Linked DNA regions of Homo sapiens. The protein of the gene in region 1 purifies or fractionates together with the protein of each later gene. This does not show direct contact. Each region holds a gene or a part of one and is shown on either strand. Other genes may lie near its edges.

Region 1 (3,500 bases):
GCTTTCTGGACCCTATCAAAGAAATTTGTCTGCCGAAAAGTTGTGCAGATACTGTTCTGTCGACTTCTACAAGCTTTTAGTTTTAGCTTTTCCATTTAAGTCTGTGATCATTCTCAAATAATTTTTGTGTGTAGTGTGAGGTAGGCCTTGAGATCCACTCTCTCCTTCATGTAGCTTTCCCGTTGTTCTGGATTCATATATTAAAAAACCTTTTCTTTCATTGATTTTCTGAAATTGACATATTTTTAACAGCAGTTTTAGGTTTACAGAAAAATTGAATGGAGAGTATAGAGTTCCCATATAACCACCCCCTTTCCCCTATTATCAACATTAACTTGCATTAGTATGGTGCATTTGTTACCATTTTTGTGCCAATATTGATACATTATTATCAAGTAAAGTCTGTAGTTTACATTAGAGTTCAGTCTTTGTGTTGTACATTCTATGAGTTTCCACAAATGTGTCATGGCATTTATTGAGGTATTGCTCCTCACAAGAGGGCATTAGCTGCGGGGGTCTGCCTGCAGACCTTGACCTAAAAGATGGATGAATGAAACGTACACTGACACACAGATATTGCTTTGCCAGTACTGCTGAGTGTCCGACTGCCTACACACCGAGAGAGGTTTGTCACTGCCGCTGGCCCTGAGTAGTTCACACTCCAGGCATTTATTTCGTATACAATTAACAACAGAAGCTCTGAGTCCACACACTTTTGGATAATTAACATGGTTAAGTGAGTAGTTCTATGAATGATTAAAGCTCAGGTACCGAGGTTTAAAGTAAATATCACTGGGGGCAATATCCCTGCCCCCCCAGAGGCCATCTGACTTAAAGGTTAGTTAACAGAGGTAGGGTAAACAGACTTAACTGGGGAAGCCTCTATTGTCCCTAGTATTTACTCTGTAACTTAATGCTCTAAGGTAAGAACCGGCTGTCTTCGGCCTGTTCAGCTATTACAAGCTATGTAACCTTTTGGCCTTCCAAAAAGGTTTGTGACTATTCCCTATAACTTTCCCTAATATTTCCCTTTAATATTTCTGCCACTATCCTGAGTGAATCCCAACAACTTATCTTCCATTATAGTATGATACGGAATAGTTATCCTCTCCTAAAAACCGCTTGTGCTCCACCTATTCATTTCTCCCTTCTTCCCTCCGTTCCCTGTAATCCCTGGCAACCACTGATCTTTTTACTGTTTCCGTAGTTTTGCCTTTTTAAAGAAGAAGAATAGAGTATGTATCCTTTTCAAATTGACTTCTTTCACTTAGCAATATGCATTTAAGGTTTCGCTATGTCTTTTTATGGTGAGAACTTATTTATCTTTATTACTGAATAATCTTTTATTTTATAGCTGTACCAGTTTGTTTATCTAGACCATCTGGAAACTACCAGTGGGAACACTAGACTTCTGATCATACCAGATAGGGAAGTTTTATTCTGTCACATGTGTAAAGGGTTGCTGATGTTAAACAGCATTGTATACACATCGGCATTATTTGCAGTTTCATAATTCAGAAAATGTGAATTTTTAATATTTCTGAGTCTCATTTATATGCTTTGTATATATTGACCCTGAGAAGAAAAATAAGTTTTATGCAAAGTCTCATCTTAAAATCATATAGCACATACTTTTGTTTTAGTTTTAAAGCTTCTAATAATACTTTCGTGATTTAGCCAAAAAATAGTCATGGTCAATATTTACATTTAAAGGGTAAGCTGTCTTCTAATGGAATGCTTGCATCATGCTAAATTAAATAATTAAAGAATGCATTTTTAAGCTTTGAAATTTGGTCTATTTACAGAAACGTAACATGGATCCCAGTTATAAAACGCATATGAGGTCTTTTTAGAAGTTATATGGGGTTTGCTTGGTTTCAATGTAGCTAAAGAGTAATACTGTCCTCCCTAAGGAATCCTGCAGTGGGGAGTTGAGATGGTTTTTTTTCTTGGACAGGGTGGCGGGGGCAGGTTAGTTTATCCAGTTAGAAAGTTAATGTGCCCAGTTAGACAGTTAATGTGCAATTACTTATATAATAAAGTTTGAGCTTTCTCAAAACCCAGTGGTATTCTAAAGTGATGTTTTGGCATGACATGTGGTAAGTTTTAATTGAGGTAAACTTTTTCCATATTAAATTAGACCATTAATTTGATGTTTGTTCTTTGAAGATTATTTGAAGCTTGTAAAGTTTGGTTCACCTTTTAACTTTGTGGATGTGTTCTTTATGTTACGCTCTTTCTTCCTTCTTCTTCCCAGGGTATAGTTAATAAAGTGTCTTCTAGCCACATTGGCTGTTTAGTACATGGGTGTTTCAATGCCTCCATTCCTAAACCTGAGCAGTTGTCAGCTGAGCAGTGGCAAACCATGGAGATAAACATGGGTGATGAACTAGAATTTGAAGTATTTCGTTTAGACTCAGATGCTGCTGGAGTATTCTGCATTCGGGGAAAACTAAATATCACAAGGTTAGTTTATCATTACGTAATTATCACTAGGTACTTAATTTCTATTTAATTCTGAATTTTAAAGAGAATTTTATTTTAATTTTAAAGAGAATAAGCCTCTCTAAAAATACCTGTTTATAGGAATATTCATGCTTTCAAACCATAAAGTCAATATAAACAATACTCTTAAGTAATCTGTAACAGTGCATCAAATAAATATTCTGAAACACAGACTAGCTAACTGGTCTGTATTTTAATATTTAATAGTTCAATTTTGCTGAGTATTTTCTATTTTGTTGTTAACTTTTTTTTTAAAGTTGACCTCTAAACTTGAAACTACTGAAAGCACAATTACCTTCCTAACTATTGGCCTGCTTTGTTTTTACACACAAAAAATTGTGTTGATTATTGTCTTCTGTGCCAGATATTTTAATTTCTGTATTATTCTGTATAGAAATTATTATAAGAATTAACTCTGATCTTGAGCTTGATTCCATGGGAGCCAAGTTTAAAGGAAGAAGGAGAGAGACAACTCTTAAAATGCTGCTATTGCTAATAATTTTTTCTGTATTTTGCCTTAAAGTTACAAGAGTATGGGTTGAAGTTCTGGAACAGCTGTTCAATTTCTGTAATGACAGAAATACAGTTTATATACATAGTACAGCAGCCTCACTATTGAGCATTGAAATATGACTAAGTCTGACTGAGGAACTGAATTTCTAAAGTTATGTTTTTGGTAGTGATTAGGTACATGTGCCTAGTGCTACTGTATAAGACTGAAGTTCTGGAGAGAAAGCTACTTCATCGATCCATGTTTTATTTTAGTGGTGTAAAATAATTCACAATGTTAAAGTAATACTATCTTAGTATCAGCTAAGTAGAACAATGGACTATTATTTGAAACAAGATTAAAATAGTAGACTGGAAACTCCATTGCTTTGATAAATACCAGATCATATTTTCTATTAGATGTCAGTGGTTTGGTTAATAAGCCTAGGTATTGTGGTGTTTAATGTTCAGTGACCAAATTTTTCTGAAACAACCCAAAACTTGGA
Region 2 (3,500 bases), on another chromosome or scaffold:
ACCTAAATGTCCATTAACCATTAATGGAAGAAGGGATGAACAAATTGCTTTGCATATATGTATGTAGTATATATACACACGCATATATACACACACAATGGAATATATATATATATATATACACACACACACTATGCAATATTATTCAGCCACAAAAAAGAATGAAGTACTGATACATGCTACAATGTGGACGAACCTCAAAAATATTATGCTAAGTGAAAGAAAGCAAACACAGAAGGCCACATATTATATGATTCTATTTGTATGAAATATCCAGAATAGAAAATACCTACTGCTTCCTGCTGACACATCTAAAGAATTTTTTAAAAAAGAAAATACGTACAAACAAAAAGTAAGACTGGTAGTTGCCAAGGGCTGGGGTCAAGAGGGGAATGTGGAGTACCTGCTTAATGGGTATGGGGTTTTATTTTGAGGTGTTGAAATATTTTAGAACTAAGCAGAAGCAGTGGTTGCGCAATACTGTAAATGTACTAAGTACTACTTAATTTTTCATTTTAAATGATTAATTTTATGTGAATTTTGCCTCAATACAAAAATACACAAACTTGAAAGTCAGCTTCAGACCATTTAAACAGATTCAGAATCTAATTTCAACTAGCCCTTAACATGCCATTCTAAGCCAATTAAATGGTGAACAAGTCAGGTAAGGAACCAAAGTAGGATAGCAGTAACAAGACAACATTCTGAAACATGCTATTTAATGGCTTTTGCCTGTGCAGGAAACAGAAAATTACAGAGGTTAATTTACCCAGGAGAGCACTCCCTTAATCCCTTAGTGAAACCATTATTTTTAAAGTAACGAAGAAAAGCAGAGGAAATTAGACTTCCTCTCAGACCTGGGTGATCATTTTACCCAGAAGAAACACACAGGATCTTTGAGATTCAGGTTCAGCCTTCCGGAGACAGACAATCAGACTTAGCTAAAGAAATAAAATATATTCGGTAAATGATAAATAACCCAGTCTTAAAGAACTTTGCATTAGTTGTCAGTCCAGACTTAAAATTTCTTAGTGTTTCCTTACTAAATTTACCCAAAAATTTGATAGCACTATTTACTACATCCAGAAAAGATAAGGGACCTGAATCATAGTTAATTTTCACAAAAAGGTAAAAAGTCAGAGACAATACATCCAGATAAACACTGGATATACAAACTAACTCTACCGAGTGAGGCTGCAAGGTAGAAGGAAATATCAAATCATCTAAGGTATATGCTTATAATGGGAGTACAGAAAAATAGGTTTGGCTTCCTATTTAGTGAAACCCATAAAGCATTATACATAATCTTAAATTTGAAAAGAAGCTTCAAGTTGCCAAGTAGTTAAAAAGTGTGAACAGCCAAGTACGGTGACACATGCCTGTGGTCCCAGCTACCCAGGAGACTGAGGCGGGAGGATTGGCTGATCTCCATACAAGGCTGTAGTGTGCTATGACTGCACGCCTGTGAATAGTCACTATATTCCAGCCTCAGCAACATAATGAGACCCTGTCTCTAAAAAAACAAAAAGTGTGAATAGGAATATAGTATGTACCTCCTACTCCATTTCCTGCTCAAAGCAATCAATAATTACAAAACAAAATAGGTGATTACATGTTAAGAACATCAAAAAGTAGGAGAGAAGGGAATTAGTGGAGGGCACAGAAAAGCAAACTCAGTAATGTTTAGCTAATGTTTAGTAACGATAGGCTTCCTTGACTTTAAGAGAAAGTTCAAAAGTTTTACCTGATTCCATCTATTGTCAAAGACGTTGCAGAAATATTGGTGGATATGACACATTTTCTAATTCCAGGTGGTGGTGGCAAAAATATCCTCCTCTGTTGATCTGAAGTATATATAAAAAGAAAATACCAATTTACAACATGCATGTGTCAAACTCGAGTTTTGAAGAACTTAATTTTTCATTACAAGTCATGTTTCTAGGCCGGGCGTGGTGACTCACGCCTGTAATCCCAGCACTTTGGGAGGCTGAGGCGGGAGGATCACAAGGTCAGGATATCGAGACCATCCTGGCTAACATGGTGAGACCCTGTCTCTAAGAAAAATACAAAAAATTAGCAGGGCGTGGGGGCGCGCCCCTGTAGTCCCAGCTACTCGGGAGGCTGAGGCAGGAGAATTGCTTGAATCTGGGAGGCAGAGGTTGCAGTGAGCCAAGATCGCGCCACTGCACTCCAGCCTGGGCGACAGAGCGAGACTCCATCTCAAAAAACAAAAAAAAAAAAACAGAGGCAAGAGAAAATCCAGAACATTATTTTCAATGTAGCAGTAAAAAAGAATGAAATTATTTACTCTGTATAGAATAATATATGTCTATGTACATATTTAGTTAATGATTAATAACAAACCAAACATAATGGGTTTTTATCAGTTTCAATGTAAATTATAAAAGCATCGGTGAACCAAATCTTGAGAAAACAATGAGAACCTTAAACAATGATCCTAAGAATTTCCCTGAAGATGACAAAATCTAAAATAGATATCTATGCTTCAATAGAGAGTAAGAAGCTAATATCATCATAAAAAAGATTTCCAAAATAGCACATCTATGTTCTTTACTGACACATATATTCCAAAACTTTGTTAATATAGGGATAAGAATCACCCAATCAACAAAAGCTGTTAATACGCATACATGTAAAATATAAAAACATTCAAATGCTAATTCCAACTCCAAATAGGAGGCTAAGGTTAATTTCCCTTTAACTTTACAAGTTAAATTCCATAATAAAAGTTTTATAAAACAAATTCTAAACCTCATTCAACAATATTTACTATAACCAAAATGTCAAATCAAGAGTTTGCATTTGCTCTTGGAATTCACCAAAGAACAGGATCATTCTTGAAAAGCAGACTAAGGCATGGCTACTTTAAAAGGAAAATGATCCACAGCCAGGCATGGTGGCTCACATCTGTAATCCCAGCAATTCTGGAGGCCAAGGCAGGCAGATGACCTGAGGTCAGGAGTTTGAAACCAGCCTGGCCAACATGGCAAAATCCCATCTCTGCTAAAAAAAAAAAAAAAAAAATACAAAACTTAGCCAGGTGTGGTGGCGAGCGCCTGCAATCCCAGCTACTTGGGAGGCTGAGGAAGGAGAATCGCTTGAACCCAGGAGGTGGCGGTTGCAGTGGGCTGAGATTGCGCCACTGCACTCCAGCCTGGATGACAAGAACGAGACTCCATCACAAAAAAAAAACAAAACAATCCACTGTGTTTAGACTTAGATATAGCTGGATATACACAATTTCTAAAAATTCTGTGGCAATGGCAAATTAGGTTTTGACTTACAGTAATACCAGCAAGAAACTACTGTCCTCATTTCAAAGAATTCTCACCAATAGTTTTGTTTTGCTGGGAGAAACAATACTCTAAACGATAATAAGGGGGATATCCACGACTCTCAAAAAAGTGAATGTAAAAAGACTTCAGGCAAAAATCACTACTGTCAAGGAATGCTGGTTCTCACTGATTTGTTTCATGATC

Evidence for each region. Proteins that work in one complex are often made in the same cells at the same time.
Region 2: the proteins of POLR1F (region 1) and DHX40 fractionate together in Homo sapiens (co-fractionation; one large-scale study listed by BioGRID). This does not show direct contact.

Annotation. Positions count from the first base shown.
Region 1 is NC_000007.14:19,699,038-19,702,537, reverse strand, and holds part of POLR1F (DNA-directed RNA polymerase I subunit RPA43), read left to right. Parts: intron 1-2,257; coding exon 2,258-2,466; intron 2,467-3,500. UniProt on the Homo sapiens protein: Component of RNA polymerase I (Pol I), a DNA-dependent RNA polymerase which synthesizes ribosomal RNA precursors using the four ribonucleoside triphosphates as substrates.
Region 2 is NC_000017.11:59,575,610-59,579,109, reverse strand, and holds part of DHX40 (probable ATP-dependent RNA helicase DHX40), read right to left. Parts: intron 1,845-3,500; coding exon 1,745-1,844; intron 1-1,744. UniProt on the Homo sapiens protein: Probable ATP-dependent RNA helicase.